Linked DNA regions of Homo sapiens: regions 1, 2 and 4 are each reported to be linked to region 3. The links are microRNA targets in miRTarBase. Many come from high-throughput screens and were not tested one by one. Region 3 holds a microRNA gene; each other region holds the end of a gene's coding sequence.
Evidence for each region. The annotated mature microRNA hsa-miR-3179 reads AGAAGGGGUGAAAUUUAAACGU and lies in region 3 at 2,051-2,072, opposite strand. An mRNA with a match to its seed (bases 2 to 7 or 8) in the 3' UTR can be bound and repressed. Matches are read on the target gene's strand: a 7mer-m8 pairs with bases 2 to 8, a 7mer-A1 pairs with bases 2 to 7 and ends in A, and an 8mer does both.

Region 1 (4,000 bases), not on the chromosome of region 3:
AATGCGAGAAAATTTTTGCAACCTACTCATCTGACAAAGGGCTAATATCCAGAATCTACAATGAACTCAAACAAATTTACAAGAAAAAAACAAACAACCCCATCAAAAAGTGGGTGAACGACATGAACAGACACTTCTCAAAAGAAGACATTTATGCAGCCAAAAATCACATGAAAAAATGCTCATCATCACTGGCCATCAGAGAAATGCAAATCAAAACCACAATGAGATACCATCTCACACCAGTTAGAATGGCGATCATTAAAAAGTCAGGAAACAACAGGTGCTGGAGAGGATGTGGAGAAATAGGAACACTTTTACACTGTTGGTGGGACTGTAAACTAGTTCAACCATTGTGGAAGTCAGTGTGGTGATTCCTCAGGGATCTAGAACTAGAAATACCATTTGACCCAGCCATCCCATTACTGGGTATATACCCAAAGGATTATAAATCATGCTGCTATAAAGACACATGCACACATATGTTTATAGCAGCACTATTCACAATAGCAAAGACTTGGAACCAACCTAAATGTCCAACAACGATAGACTGGATTAAGAAAATGTGGCACATATACACCATGGAATACTATGCAGCCATAAAAAATGATGAGTTCATGTCCTTTGTAGGGACATGGATGAAACTGGAAACCATCATTCTCAGCAAACTATCGCAAGGACAAAAAACCAAACGCTGCATGTTCTCACTCATAGGTGGGAATTGAACAGTGAGAACACATGGACACAGGAAGGGGAACATCACACTCCGGAGACTGTTGTGGGGTTGGGGGAGCGGGGGAGGGATAGCATTAGCAGATATACCTAATGCTAAATGACGAGTTAATGGGTACAGCACACCAACATGGCACATGTATACATATGTAACAAACCTGCACATTGTGCACATGTACCCTAAAACTTAAAGTATAATAATAATAAAATTAAAAAAAAAAATAACAGTACCCTTGTACACTGTTGGTGGAATGTAGATCACTACAGCCATTACGGAAAACAGCATGGAGGTTTCCAAAAAAAACTAAAAATAGAATGACCATACAATTCAGCAATCCCACTTCCAGGTGTATATACATATATTCAAAGGAAATAAAATCACCATCTTGAAGGGATATCTACACTCCCGTGTTCACTGCAGCATTATTCACAATAGCCAAGAAATGGGAACAACCTAAGTGTCTGCTGACATGAACTGGTAAAGAAAATGCATATGGTACACATACCATGGACCAATAACCCGCCTGAGAAGAGAAGGAAGTCCTGTCATTTGCAACAACATAGGTGAATGTGGAGGATGTTATGGTAAGTGAAAGAAGCCAGGCACAGAAAGACAAATACTGCCTGATCTCATATTGTCAGAGGTGTGTGAACCAGGGCAACTCCATCTTAAATAGGAGCTGGGTAAAATAAGGCTAAAGCCTACTGGGTTGCATTCCCAGACGGTGAGGCATTCTAACTCACAGGATGAGATAGGAGGTCAGCACAAAATACAGGTCATAAAGACCTTGCTGATAAAACAGGCTAATAAAAAAGAGCCAGCCAAAACCCACCAAAACCAAGATGGCGACGACAATGACCTCTCGTCACCCTCACTGCTACACTCCCACCAGCGCCATGACAGTTTATAGATGCCATGGCAAGGTCAGAAAGTTATCCTATATGGTCTAAAAGGGGAGGCAAGAATAATCCACCCCTTATTTAGCATATCATCAAGAAATAACCACAAAATGGGCAACCAGCAGCCCTCAGGGCTGCTCTATGGAGTCGTCGTTCTTTTATTCCTTTACTTTCTCAATAAACTTGCTTTCACTTTGCACTGTGGACTGGCCGTGAATTCTTTCTTGCTTGAGATCCAACAAACCTCTCTTGAGGTCTGGATCAGGACCCCTTTCCTGTAACAATATGTGGTATCTAAAGATGTCAAACCCATCCAGAGTAGAAGGGTGGATACCAGAGTCAGGGCGTGGGGGCAGTGAGGTGACAGGTGTTGGTCAAAGGGTACAAACTTTCTGTGGTAAGTACTGAGGCAGGAGAACAGGGTCTGGAGACAGGGACAACAGCAAGGTCTGAGAAAACAGCAAGGTCTGGGCGCAGGAAATCCAAGGCCAATTCGAGCTGCCTTCCCAAAGCTGGGTCAAAAGGAAAACACCTGGGTCTGGGGGCAGGGAACCTGAGGCCAATTAACACACACTTCTGAAAGCGGAACCAAACAGAAAACCCCATCTCCCCAAGCCAAGCAGCAAAAGATCAAAGGCTACTCTCCCTATAACGTCTTAGATGGAAAGGGAGAGTGCCCTGGATTAGCTGCAGCCAACACAGGGACCATCCCTTCATCTGCGTAGAGCGCCAATTCACCTCAGCCTTTAATTAGCCAGGGACCAAATCCTTCATCCAGATAAGGGGTAGCAGATAAGAACCTCAAACAGGGAACTTAACACCCTTGAGCCCTTGCTGGGTCTGCTCCCACCCTGCAGAGCTTTCTGTCTTGAATAAATCTCTGCTTTCGCTGCTTCGCTCCCGCGTTTCATTCCTCTGCTACTCTGTGTGTTTTGGTCAATTCTTTGTTCAAAATGCCAAGGACCTGAACAACTCATAGTGAAGACCCTCCATGAGTAACAGTAGGTTCTAGAGGCCTAATGGACAACACAGATACTACAGTTACTAATAACATATATTTGCAGTTTGCTCAGAGAGTAGATTGTGAGTATTCTCACCACACACACGAAAACAGTAAATGTGAGCTGGTGGGTATGTCAACAAGCTTGACTGTGGCAAACATTTCACAATGAATACCTATAGCAAATCATCACGTTGTACATCTTGAATATTTGAAAAATACATGGAATGAGGAGCTCCCTGTGCTCTCAGATATAATTATGCTCAGAGGAAACTGCTGAAGAGTCACAGGTAACTTACCACAGACGGAGAATCCCTTACTCCCTGGAGAGACCGGGGACAGCGATGGGACTGAGCAGGAGCTGGGTCACAAAATACCTATCCAGGCTCACAGGCTGGAAAGCAGCAGCAGTCCCCCATCCTGTGTGTGTGGTGGTGAGGGTGGGAGTGACGCTGTCAGGTCCTGAGCTGAGCGGTGGCCCACCAAGCCCCCTAGGCCTTCCCTGGGAGGGTCCTGCGCCTCAGGCCTCAGGGCACAGGGCGTGGCGGAGAGAATGGAAGGGGAAATAGACCAGGAGCTGAAAACTGTGTCAAATGAACCATGAGCTCTGGATAAGAAATCCATACTCAGAAAATTCCTACATATAAAAATACCTTTTAAATATCAAAAAATCTCATCTTGCCCTAATTTTTTGGTATAAATTTCATTTCAAAAACTTCCCACCAGTTGTGTGTGGACTAAGGAGAACACCATCTTTGGTGCAGTTTGGATGGAGTAAGTGGAAAATGGTAGGAAAGTGGCAGAAGGGCAAAGGCCCGGGCGAAGGCGCTGAAGAAATCTCAGGGGGAAAAGCCCCTGTGGCCAGGTTGGCCCTCACCTCGGAAGGACAGGATGTCTCCGGAAAGTGGGGTCCAGGTCCCACATTTACCACTTGTCTGAGTTTCTTCATGCAAGGCTTCCCCGCCCGAGGGGCCCTGTCAGAGCTGCAGTGCTGAGCCTGAGGCCACCGCCATTTCTCCCTCCTCCTCTTCACACCCTTCTTCTTGGGCCATGCCTCCTCCGCCCTTGGGTGCCTGTCTGACAGGGAGGGCTGTGGCGGTGGCTCATTCTGGAACCAGTATGTGCTGCTCGTGGGTGCTGCAAAGCCCTGCATGCCAGCCCCGCCCCAGGCCTCTGCTCACCAGACCCTTTCTTTCACCCACTTTGTTCTTCTGGCTGAGCTTTGAGGAAAGGAACTGCCTTTCAAACGCAGCCTGACTTAGGTCGGCCGTCTTTTTCTCTTTTCTTTTCTGTTTCTTGTCTGCATAGATGAGCTTTTCAGGACTGTGAAGAAAAGCAGAAAAAATTGTCTCGATTCAGCACAGATGG
Region 2 (4,000 bases), not on the chromosome of region 3:
GCTGGGACCACAGGTGCTTGCCACCACGCCCAGCTAATTTTGTCTTTTTAGTAGAGATGGGGTTTCACCATGTTGACTAGGCTAGTCTCAAACTCCTGGCCTCAAGTGATCCACCCACCTCGGCCTCCCAAAATGCTGGGATTACAGGCCTGAGCCACCGCGCCCAGCTATTCACCCATTTCTTACTCCCCCACTCAAGAAGTCACACCACTCTTGTCATTCCAAGAAATCTTAATTTCTTTATTGTTTGACTTTTTGACTCAACAATTTTTTTAAAACTTTTTGTTTTTTTCTGAAACGTTCTTGTTGTTATGAGCCTTTTGTTTTGTTCTCGTTAAATGCACTCGACCCAAAATTGGTTTGGCATATCGAAAAGGAGACCAAGGAGGGAGGGGCTGGGGCGTGGGAGGTGGGGAGGAGGCCCGAATGGACAGAAAGTTGAGGATAAGAGAAGAGGAACATAGAGACAGCCAGAAAGACATGGGGAAAGAGTGTTGGAGACAGAGAAAGGGGAAGGCAAGGGAAAGCCAAAAGAAACCAAAATCCAGAGAAAAAGAATTAACAAGATTTAGGAGCAAACGAGTTCAGGAGCCTAAGGAAGGGAGTAGGAGAGGAAACCAAGACCCTTCTCTGTACCGTCCCAGCTGGGGTGGGGGCGTCAAGGCACCAGGTCTGGTTAGGTTGGGGGGACACCTGGGCTCTGGGGGCGGCTTTGCACTGGACTGCAGTGATGTCCAGCCCCAGCAGGGGGCCCTGCCACACAGCTCTGAGGCCTGGAAGCCACCCGGCGATGCCGGCTGGAACAGGACCCGATACACCCTCTCTCCCTTTGATTGTCCGAGTCTGGAGAGATACAAGGAAGGCTGGGCAGGGAGGAAGTTGGCCTCTCTGTGTGCCTCAGCCCCCTGGAACTCTCCTGGCCCTCCTCCTGGTGTCGGGGGCAGCCACAGGCTGGGCTGCTTCCCGGGACAGGCCAGCTCCTCGCCTGCTCATGCCTCCTGCCCGCTCTTCACAGACCTCTGACCACCCCTCCACACAACAGAGCTCCCAGCCTAGTGCAGTCCGGGAAGGGCCATGGAACTGTCCCTTGCCCTCCTCAGAGTCGTCTGGCAAGACTGTCCCTGGCCTCACTTCTCCTCCCCATCTAGACTTCACCCATGGTCTTCTGGTGTAATGGGTTAGGCCTTTCTACCAGAAAAAGCCAGAGTTGGAACCCAACCCCACCTCTTCCCCACACCTGTTCCCTTACACGGGACAAACCACCATCTTTGGTCTGACCCCTTCTCCCCTAATTGATGGGGACAAGCCAGCCCCAGCTCCCCGGGAGAAGGGAGGGGCTTTCTAGCAGCAAAAAGGGTCCCTCCAGCCACCTACCTGTCCCCTTCCCCCCAGTTCCTTCCTAGAGCCCCTCCCCCTTAACCCAACAAAGTTCATGGCAGCAGCAGGCTGAGACCCGAAGATGTTTGAAAACTCATGGCACTTGTGAGAAAAGGAGGGGCAGAGAGATGGGGAGAGGTCAGAGCAGAGGTGGAGGGGCCACCTCTGGGGAAACGGCAATGCAGGGGCTGGGCTAGGGTGGCCTGGGGCTATGCTGCCCCTAGAGTTGAGGGAAGGGGGCTGGGGAGGCTGGCCTGACAGGCTGGAGAGGAGGGGGCCGGGACAGGTGCTCAGGACACATCCCGAGCCTGGAGCTTCCGGGGTCTGGGATTTGGGGTCAAGCCGCCCAGAACATGGGTGTCCCGACCCCAGCCCTGGCACCTGGCTTCGTCTTCCCTGCGGGAAGGTGGAGGATAGGGAAGGTGATCTCTCACCTTTGCCCCTCCCCATCCCCCAGACCGCCTTGCCGTTCCCAGCACCCTCCTCAGCCATACCCATGCCCTCCACAACCCCAGTGCCTCCCCATTTTCCTTCTGCCATCAACCTCTCTAGGTGGGAAATCAGCCCCATCTTCCCCGGCGAGAGTCCCCAGAGCAATATACAAGAAGCAGGAACTCAAAGGGACAGCGCAGCCATCTTGACAAAGCATCTTTGGGTGTGAAGAGGTCTCCCCCGGGCCGGTGGGGAGGGAAGGGGGAGACAGGCCTCTGGTCCTGGGGCAGGCAGTGAGAGGTACACGCCCCAGAAGGGCTGATGATGCCGGGCAGGCGGAGCAGGAAAGGAGGGTGCCAGGAAGGAAATGGGTTCTTTGTTTCGCTGTTGCATCTAGATTTTGTTTTCTGTCTCTGGATTGTAAAAAGCTGCTCTGGCGGCCCGCCCGCCCCGGCGGGGACTGGGGATGCACGTACACGGAGAAGTCCTGGCTGCCAGGCCAGCAGCGCTGCTCTGCTCCGGAGAAAGCCCGGGCTGGCCCGGGCCGCAGGCTCCCGGTGGCTTCAAGTGATGAGATTTTTTTTCTTTTCTTTTTTTTTTTTTTTGTCTTTTTTTTTTCTTTTCCATTTCGTTGAAATATTTACAGCAATGGGGAAGGAGGAGGAGAGAGGAAGGAGTAAGAGGGCCCCCTAGGGAAAGATCCAAGCCCAGGACCCACTCCCCAGGGAGATCCAGACCCAAAATCTGCTCCCCAGATAGCCGAGCCCACAGGACTGGGAACTGCCCAAATATGGCCACCCCTGTGGGCTGGGGGCCCTGCGGGGAGTTGTGCTTCATCAGGAGTCGCCCCAAGGGAGGGGGTCATTGGGTGCACTGGGAGGCAGAGGGGGCAGGTTTGCTTGCGGGGCAGGGACCAAGAGCAAGGGGAAAGGAGCTTCAGAGAAAGTTCAACCTTTAAACCACCAGCCACCACCGCCCAGTCCCCCTGCCCTGCGGCCTTTTCCCAGTCTCCAGGGAGCAGGGAATTACAGCGCAGGAGGAACCTGTCCATCTGTCCTGCCTCACTGCTCCCTCTGGGTGCAGCCGGCAGCATTTCTGGCTGCGGAGAGGAGCAGCTAACAGGTTCCATCCAGTGGGGGCCTTTGGCAACCTCAGAAGCTGCCCCTCCCTGCCCAGGAAACTAAAGCCCTCATTTCCCTTCACAGGGTAGAAGGGTGGGAGAGGGGAGAGTCTGGAAGTGGGCTGCACCCTTCCAAGTTCTCCCTCCTCACTCCCCTGGGGTCCTCTGGGCTCCTCCTCACTACACTTCCCCCAAATAGAGCTGGTGCGTGTGGCTGGTGGGAAACCCTGTCTGTGAACCCTGGCACCTCAGGCCCCCAGGTTAGAGTCCCCTGAGGGGACTGTAGGGCCCATGGCTGAGGGGCACCTGGAGAGAGTGGCCCACCAGCCACTGCCTCCATCTGTCTCCCTCTCCCACCAGAGCCCTGCCCAGGGTTCCCTCCCTGGCCTGGGCCACCAGCCCCTGGTCCATGAGGTGCCCTCAGAGACTGGTGACCAGCTGCATCTGCCCGTCCCCATCGGGCCCTGGCCCCTCAAGGCCTGGGGCTGCCAGGTAGCCCTCGTGGCTAGGACGCCGCACCTGGTAGTAGCCCTGCAGGGGATTCCGGGCCACCAGGGCTGGCGGGCGCGAGGTGTAGTAGATTTCGGGGGGGCCGGGGGGTGCGGGAGGGGGTGGGGGCAGGGCCTCACTGGGCCCCTCAGGGCTGCTGTCCGGGTAGGAGGGTGAGTCCCGCAGGTTGGCCCCGCTGGCATAGAGGGAGTCCCGGCCAGGAGGGGAGGAGAGGGGCCGGCTGGTGGCGCCGTCCTCGGCCGTGCAGCTCTCCGACTCGTCCAGATCGCTCTGGTACAGCACCGACTGGGCCCGGGGCAGCAGCAGAGGCTCCTCCAGGGCCTTATAGAGAAGTTCAATCTCGGCCCGGTCAGCACCCCCGGGCCCGCCCGCCTCTTCCTCGCCCCCGCCCCCTGGCACAGGTGGCACAGGGGGCTCAGGCGGTGGAGGGCCCTTGGCCGCGCTGCTGCTCCCCCGCAGGTTGTTGTGCACCAGCTCTGAGATGATCATCTTCTCAAAGGCCGCCGCATCGGCTAGGTTCCGGCCTCGGGGCGGCTCAGGGCCCCCATCCCCGGGAGGGAA
Region 3 (4,396 bases):
AAAAACACTCCCAGCTCACCACGTCTCATCTCCAGCCGTGATTTCTCACCCAGGCTGCAGACTCGGGTGTCTGATAAGCATCTCAAACTCACGATGGCCAAAACAGAAGTCTCAATTTACCTACACATTTCAGTGGTTCAGCTAGAAACAAACGATTCACTTATCGTTGATTCCTCCCTTCCCTCACCTCCTGTATTAAATACATCAGCAAGACCTTTCTGCTCTATCTCTGAAGCATAGCCCCAAGCTCACCACTTCCTGCCACTGTTACTTCCATCACCCCAATCCAAGCCATTGCTGTCTTTTGCCTAAACCAACACAACGTCCTCTTTGCTTCTCTCCCTAAATTCATTCTTGCTTCCCAATAATCCAATCTCCTCAAAATTTAAAGAAGCAATTGTTTAAAAACATACATCAGATCACTCCCCTTTCCCTACTTAAACCCTCCAATGCCTTCTGTTGCCATTAGAATAAAATCTAAACTCCTTTCCAGGGCACCCACATGACCCGGTCCCTGCCATCGTTCTCATCTCTTCCTCTCAATCACTTGACTCTGGCCACCCTGGCCTCTTTGCTATTCCTGAAACTCAGGGAGCTCATTTCCTCCTGGGGGCCTTTGCAATTATGGTCCCCTCTGCCTGGGCAGCTCTTCCCCCAGATCTTTGCATAACTGGCCCTTCCCCTCCTCAGGTCTCAGCTCAGATGCTGCCTCCTCAGAGAGACCTTCCATGATACCAATCATCCTCTGTCACATTGCCTTGTTCTGCTTCTTTTCTTCGTAACGCCTGGCATTATCCAACAACTTCTAATGTGTGTGTTTACCTTTCGTCCTCCATCAGCACTGTGCTCCTAAGAGCTGAGGCTCGGTCTCTCTCACACCACTAAACCCCCAGTATGCCAAGCAGCACCCAGCACAGGGGAGATGCTCAGTTAATACTTGTTGAATGAATTAATGATGCTCCCCCTAAAACTAAACTTTACAAAGCACCCACTAGACAACAGGTTAGAAAACATTTTCTAGGCCAGGCGCAGTGGCTCACACCTGTAATCCCAGCACTTTGGGAGGCTGAGGCAGGCAGATCATCTGAGGTCGGGGTTTGAGACCAGCCTGGCCAACATGGTAAAGCCCTGTTTCTACTAAAAATGCAAAAATTAGCCAGGCTTGGTGGCAGGCGCCTATAATCCCAGCTACTAGGGAGGCTGAGGCACGATAATCATTTGAACCCAAGAGGCGGAGGTTGCAGTGAGCTGAGATCACACCACTGCACTCCAGCCTGGGTGACAGAGAAAGACCCCATCTCAAAAACAACAACAACAACAACAAAATGTCTTCTGTAAAGACCCAGATAGCAAGTATTTTAGGCTTTTTAGGCTACCTGGTCTTTGCCACAACTACTTACATCTGGCACTGTCAGGCAAAAGCAGCCATAATCTGCAAATGAATGGGCATGGCTGTGTGCTCATAACACTTTATTTATAAAACAAGAACAGTGGGCCATAGTTTGCTAACCCCTGCACTAGCCCAGTCTAAGTCTTGAATATCATCTGTGTAATTAATTCACAGTGAGGAGTTCTCCACTGTAATAATTACTCATTCCATGAATGCATGCCACTCAGGTGAGGCGTTCTTGAAACTCTGAGAGGCAAGAAGCAAAATGTTCTTTCTCCATACCCAGGCACACTCCAGTCTGTGAAAAGGAAGCAAGAGAGGCAGGCTGCAAGTTTGATCACTGGGTGGCTGCTAGCCACCTCTCCCCCTCAGCTCCAAGAGCAGAAACAGGATGAAAACGCAGCAGCTGCCGGCTTCTGTCCTCTTGCCAGCTGCCTCTCTTGCAAGACTAGACAGGGAGGGGCAGCCGCCAGTCTCCGGAGGCACAGACTGCACAGAATTGAGGATCACTTGTTCCAATGCATTCATCTTATCTTACAAAATCTTCAAATTCCAAAAAGCACACGTAAGAAGGGCTGCTGTTTCATTCACACAGTGAAATATTGTGCATCTGAAAGAATATGTAGATGGGTGGCATCTTCAACAACCCCAGGATCACAGACGTTTAAATTTCACCCCTTCTACTGCTGTAAGGCACAGCAGAAGGAGTGTAATTTAAACGTCTGTGATCCTGGCTGGGCGTGGTGACTCTTGCCTGTAATCCCAACACTTAGGGAGCCCAAGGTGGGAGGATTGCTTGAGCTCAGGAGTTCAAGACCAGCCTGGGCAACCTAGTGAGAGCTCATCTCTACAAAGATTTTTTTTAAAAAAATTAGCCAGGTGTGGTGGTGCACTCCTGTAGTCCCAGCTACTCAGCAGGCTGAGGCACGATGATCCCTTGACCCTGGGAGATCAAGGCTGCAGTGAGCTGTGATGGTGCCATTGTACTCCAGCCTGGGGAACAGAACAAGAACCCATCTAAAAAAAAAAAAAGAAAGAAAAGTTCATATTCCAACCAAGATCTCACCATTACATCATCAAGCATAAACACCTGCCCCCACTGAAAAAGTACAGAGGAAGGCAGTCATATAATATCTTCCCTCCTGACCTCACCAAGTTCCAGGGCAGGAAGAGTCTCGCCACCCCAGCACACAGTAGGCCCACTGGAAAATGAGTGCTCCCTTCTCTAGGCATTTCATTGTCATGGTCATAAAGTCAGGTTCATTTTTCTAATGAAAGAGAAAGCCAAAAATGGAGGCTGATTTTTTTCTTTTTTCTTTTTTTTTTTTTTTAGTCTCACTCTGTCGCCAGGCTAGAGTGCAATGGTGCGATCTCGGCTCACTGCAACCTCCGACTCCCTGGATCAAGTGATTCTCCTGTCAGCCTATCGAGTGGCTGGGACTACAGGCGCCCACCACCACACCTAGCTAATTTTTGTAGTTTTAGTAGAGACAGGGTTTCACCATATTGGCCAGGATGGTCTCGATCTCTTGACCTCATGATCTGCCCATCTCAACCTCCCAAAGTGCTGGGATTACAGGCATGAGCCACCACACCGGGCCTGGAGGGTGATTTTGACCAGGCCTTCTCAAGTTTTGGAAGGAAGTGGAGCTGACTTCTCTTCTGTTGCTTTTGCCCACCCAGGATCACTTATTCCTCTGGGTAATACAGCACCCCAGGCACAGGGGCCGCCTGTCACATGAGCGTGGGCATGGCTCATGTGCGGCCAGGCCCCAGTGATTCTGCAAAGGTTGCCCATAAGTCCTTCCCCCGCCCCAGGACTGGCATATTGATGTGGTGGGATGGAAGCTGTCCTTCTGCTGGGTCTGCAGATGGGGGCAATGTAAAGCCTGACATTGCCGGATGATGTCAGAAGCGGAACCCATAGGCAAAAGCCAGCTTTCCAGCACTCCACTCTCAGTTTCCTGCCATCTCCACTTCTGTGGATGTGTGCCCGGCATCTGCCTCTGCCCCTGCCTCTGAGAGCAGTGACTGAGCAAACAGTCCTGGACCTGGTTGAAAGGATGGGCCTGTCTGTTTCTAGCAGAGTGGTCTTTCAGAAAGCTGATTCCTGAAAGTTGGCATCAAGGGAAGCAGAGCCAGGAGGTGGAAATTGAGACTGGGTCCCGCTATGCATGAAGCCAGAGACTCTTGGATTTCTCCGTTACTTGACCAGAGGAATGCCCCATTTTGCTCAAGCTAGTTGGAGTTGGATTTCTGTTACTTGAAACCAAGAGAGCCTTAACTAATACACAACTAGAAATGCATCCATGGTCACTGCCCATTCATGTGACAGACATTTATTGAGCACTATTCCAGTTACCTAATGTTGCATGAGTTACCCCAAAACTTAGAGGCTTAATTCAGTCGTATAAGATATTCACAGATCCCGTGGGTCAAGAATTTGGGAAGACACTGTAGGTTGAACTTTGTTCTCTGCTTTGTCTTTCTTGGAAAGAGAGGACACAGCTTGAAGTCATTACTGATTTGGGACTGTATGTAATGCATATCTGTGCTTCATTGTCACTGTGTTTTTAAGTTTTCTAAACTTAAAACAGCTCATTTTCGGGGGACATAAAGAACCTGGGAAGAGCTCAGCTGGGCAGCACTGACCTGGGGTCTCTTGAGTGGTGGAAGTCAGATGTCATCTGCAGTTGCACTCACCAGAAGGCTTGACCGGGGCGGGGAAATTCACTTCCAAGCTGGCTCACTCACGTGGTGGCAAGCTGTACATGCTGGGGGCCAGGGGCCTCACCCCTCCCCACGAGGCTGCCTGAGCACCCTCACGCAAGGCAGTTGGCTTCCCGAGAGCCAAAGTGCAATGCCTGTTACGACCTAGCCCGAGAAGTCACACATCATCACTCACTTCCACCACTTCCCACTGGTCGCACAGAGCCAGCCTGATTCAGTGTGGGAGGGGACCACACACAAAGGCAGTGTGCATCCCTGGGGGCCATCCTGAGGCTG
Region 4 (4,000 bases), not on the chromosome of region 3:
TTTTATAAAAGTGTAAGTAGATTAGGCTTGACAATAAAGCTAATGTCTGCAACCCTTGAATCTCTTCTAAAGTAATCTTCCTTTTGGTTGTTTCAGCTGTCATTGCTGGTGGAGTTATTGGCTTTCTCTTTGCAATTTTTCTTATCCTGCTGTTGGTGTATCGCATGAGAAAGAAGGATGAAGGAAGCTATGACCTTGGAGAACGCAAACCATCCAGTGCTGCTTATCAGAAGGCACCTACTAAGGAGTTTTATGCGTAAAACTCCAACTTAGTGTCTCTATTTATGAGATCACTGAACTTTTCAAAATAAAGCTTTTGCATAGAATAATGAAGATCTTTGTTTTTTGTTTTCATTAAAGAGCCATTCTGGCACTTTAATGATAAAATCCCATTGTATTTAAAACATTTCATGTATTTCTTTAGAACAACATAAAATTAAAATTTAACATCTGCAGTGTTCTGTGAATAGCAGTGGCAAAATATTATGTTATGAAAACCCTCGATGTTCATGGAATTGGTTTAAACTTTTATGCGCAAATACAAAATGATTGTCTTTTTCCTATGACTCAAAGATGAAAGCTGTTTCATTTGTGTCAGCATGTCTCAGATTGACCTTACCAAGTTGGTCTTACTTTGTTAATTTATCTGTTGTCCCCTTCCTCTCCTCTGCCCTCCCTTCTTGTGCCCTTAAAACCAAACCCTATGCCTTTTGTAGCTGTCATGGTGCAATTTGTCTTTGGAAAATTCAGATAATGGTAATTTAGTGTATATGTGATTTTCAAATATGTAAACTTTAACTTCCACTTTGTATAAATTTTTAAGTGTCAGACTATCCATTTTACACTTGCTTTATTTTTCATTACCTGTAGCTTTGGGCAGATTTGCAACAGCAAATTAATGTGTAAAATTGGATTATTACTACAAAACCGTTTAGTCATATCTATCTAATCAGATCTTCTTTTGGGAGGATTTGATGTAAGTTACTGACAAGCCTCAGCAAACCCAAAGATGTTAACAGTATTTTAAGAAGTTGCTGCAGATTCCTTTGGCCACTGTATTTGTTAATTTCTTGCAATTTGAAGGTACGAGTAGAGGTTTAAAGAAAAATCAGTTTTTGTTCTTAAAAATGCATTTAAGTTGTAAACGTCTTTTTAAGCCTTTGAAGTGCCTCTGATTCTATGTAACTTGTTGCAGACTGGTGTTAATGAGTATATGTAACAGTTTAAAAAAAAAGTTGGTATTTTATAAGCACAGACAATTCTAATGGTAACTTTTGTAGTCTTATGAATAGACATAAATTGTAATTTGGGAACATAAAAACTACTGAATAAATCATGTGGCCTAATATTGAAAATGTCACTGTTATAAATTTTGTACATTTTTGATCAAATGTACATCTCCCCTTTGCTAACGGCCGTCTGCTCTCAAGGATGACGTGGGTTTGATTTCTAAGTGTTTCACAGTGTCTGTAAATCAAGACCAAAGAGCCTGTCGATGAGACTGTTTATTACCAGATTCACTTCTGAATTGGCCAGAGGAAATCTGAATGTATTATCCTGTGTGTGTCTAGGTAGAGATATTGGAAGGCTGCCAGGGGATTTCGAAGTTTGCAACCTTTATAGGATAACTGATGGCAATATTAAGACAGACGCCTGCTTTTGCAAATAACTTACAAGACTGTAAATTCCAAAGATCTGAATGGGGCTTTCCTGATGTTGGTATCTAAGGCTTAGGCCTATAGATTGATTTACCTTTGGAATTGTGCTCCAAATGTCTACTGAAGCTTAACCGAAGAACTAATAAATGGACTACAGTAGCTCACGTTACAGGGAAGGAGGGTAGGCAGGGAGGCTCTGTGTGTTAAAATGAGGGTCTCACTGCTTTAGGATTGAAGTGGCTGGAAAGAGTGATGCCTGGGGAAGGAGATGGAGTTATGAGGGTACTGTGGCTGGTACTTTCTGTACTAAACATTTCCTTTTTCTATTTTACCACTAATTTTGTTTTAAACTGTGAGCCGTCCAAGTCAGAAGAAGACAGCAAAAAAAGCAACTTTTCCAACATACAATTTACTTTTAATAAAGTATGAATATTTCATTTTGAGAACATTCCCTGGAATTGCCACATAATTCATTAAAAACATTTTTTTAAGCAACACTTGGAACAGTGTTTACTTTAAATCCTTAATGGCCTTAATTAATTCTCAGATTCCTGCCCCATCACTTACAGAACCAATTCACTTTAGAGTGACTAAAAGGAAACGATAGCCTAGCTTTCTAAAGCCACGCTGTGTCCCTCAATTACAGAGGGTAGGAATGGGTATACCTCTAACTGTGCAAAGCAGAGTGAAATTCAATTCATAGAATAACAACTGCTGGGAATATCCGTGCCAGGAAAAGAAAAATTTCTGGCAAATATTTTGTCACTGCTGTAAAGCAAAATATTTGTGAAAGTGCCAAAATAAAGTCTGTCATGCCAAAAGTAAATCATTGTATAGACTGACATCCAGTTTTCTTCAACTGTACACTTTCTGCTTAGTTTTTTTTTTTTAAGATGCAGTAAATAATACTATAAAAAGTGTTAGTAATGATTACTGAGTTCAGGAAAATTTTGGTAAAATGTAAATATTAAAGCCAATGTGAAAATTTCCTGTTTCCTTAACCACATGTAAACGATTTCTCTTGAGTGAATATGGCTTTGTGTTTGAGAGACTTGAGATAGTCACACTGTCCCATTTTCAGCCCGTAGGGGGAATAGGAAGCACTTGGGTTTTATTTTTGTTTTTCAGTTTTAGTTGCAGGTGCGTAGTACCTGAATTTCAGGATTAGGACCTGTTTAATAAAAGTGAACAAGATTATAAAAATTGCCATTTCTTAAGGGTTGATAGTTTCTCATCAAACGTTTACTGAATTTTTGTCCATGCACTTTTTTGCAAGTTAGACAAAATGTACTTGTTATGGATGTAGTCTGTTAGGTCTAGGAGAGTAAGCTAATTAAATAGAATATGATTACTTTCTTCAAGTGTCCCTAAAGAAACTACTGTGTCCTACTTCATAGTTCTAAGGAGCTTATTTCTTCAATATCTTAGACATTTTGAAACATCAAGGAAAGATGTTAGGTGAGCAAAAATATAAAACCTAGAAATATTGTGGGGTTAATTTTATAAGTGTGATCTTTATAGCATTACTATAATTTCATAAGGGGGTGGTAGAGAAAAAAATATTTTTAAACATACTTGGTAGTACCAAAAAAGGCAACAACTTTGAGCTACACTATCTCTAATGTGAACTTCTAAATTCTAAGCCCACACCAGACATCGGTGAGACCCTAAGAGGTTTCCAATTAAAATTAAGCCAGATGATAAATGGAGTAATCTGAAGTGAGTGATCACTAAGGTTTTTTTTGGTTCTAATATTTTATGACAATTGTGAAATTTGAGACTTGGCCATTTCTGGGGAATTACATTAAGTCAGCACAAAAAACTTTAAAAGGGTAAAACCACATCTTTCAGTGATAAAAACAGTTACCAAAATCACTTCTGTCCCACTCTGTCTCCAAACTCTGGGTGACTTCACTCTTACAGTTTATGGTTGTAAAGTTTCATTTATTTTTGTTTATCTGCTGTATATGGTCTTTAGCAGGGCCTTTTCTGACCATGGAATCGTGGCAACTCTGAGAGCAACTTGGTTTCCTGCGAATTAGCTGGAAGGGTGTAACCCAAGCCGTCAATCCAACCCGCAAATAGCAGAGTGAAATGTTAGGCTTTGGTGCTTCAGAGATGCTGAGTGCAAGATGCATTTATTCCAGTTTTGTTGGCAAAATAGCATTCAAAAAACAAATGCTTGTATGTGCAATCCATCAGAAGTTCAGTCAAATATTTGCCTGACTATGCACTGGAAACTTAAAGAAGCAGAAGGTATGGCGGTGAACTACACAGACAAGGACCCTGCTCACGTGGAGCTTTCATGAACTTGGTGTGGGTTGCAGAGTGGAAATAAAATC

Region 1: the mRNA of FAM228A is a reported target of hsa-miR-3179. Seed matches in the 3' UTR shown: 7mer-m8 at 3,189-3,195.
Region 2: the mRNA of ADGRL1 is a reported target of hsa-miR-3179. Seed matches in the 3' UTR shown: 7mer-m8 at 2,067-2,073 and 7mer-m8 at 1,610-1,616.
Region 4: the mRNA of SDC2 is a reported target of hsa-miR-3179. Seed matches in the 3' UTR shown: 7mer-m8 at 654-660.

What each region holds. Positions count from the first base shown.
Region 1 is chr2:24,190,367-24,194,366 of GRCh38, reverse strand. FAM228A (family with sequence similarity 228 member A) reads right to left here. Exons shown (of 6, transcript NM_001040710.3): 6 at 2,669-3,955. The coding sequence ends at 3,736. Among named protein-coding and RNA genes, the nearest start is that of FAM228A, 17 kb to the right of the region's middle.
Region 2 is chr19:14,147,524-14,151,523 of GRCh38, forward strand. ADGRL1 (adhesion G protein-coupled receptor L1) reads right to left here. Exons shown (of 23, transcript NM_014921.5): 23 at 220-4,000. The coding sequence ends at 3,350. All of the region lies in intron 1 of ADGRL1-AS1 (ADGRL1 antisense RNA 1), which reads left to right. Among named protein-coding and RNA genes, the nearest start is that of ADGRL1-AS1, 12 kb to the left of the region's middle. RefSeq lists an enhancer at 355-1,098.
Region 3 is chr16:18,492,454-18,496,849 of GRCh38, forward strand. MIR3179-4 (microRNA 3179-4) reads right to left here and starts at 2,123; the gene lies at 2,040-2,123. The region is part of intron 2 of LOC105379460 (a long non-coding RNA gene); the gene reads left to right.
Region 4 is chr8:96,609,289-96,613,288 of GRCh38, forward strand. SDC2 (syndecan 2) reads left to right here. Exons shown (of 5, transcript NM_002998.4): 5 at 97-2,502. The coding sequence ends at 260. Among named protein-coding and RNA genes, the nearest start is that of CPQ, 34 kb to the right of the region's middle.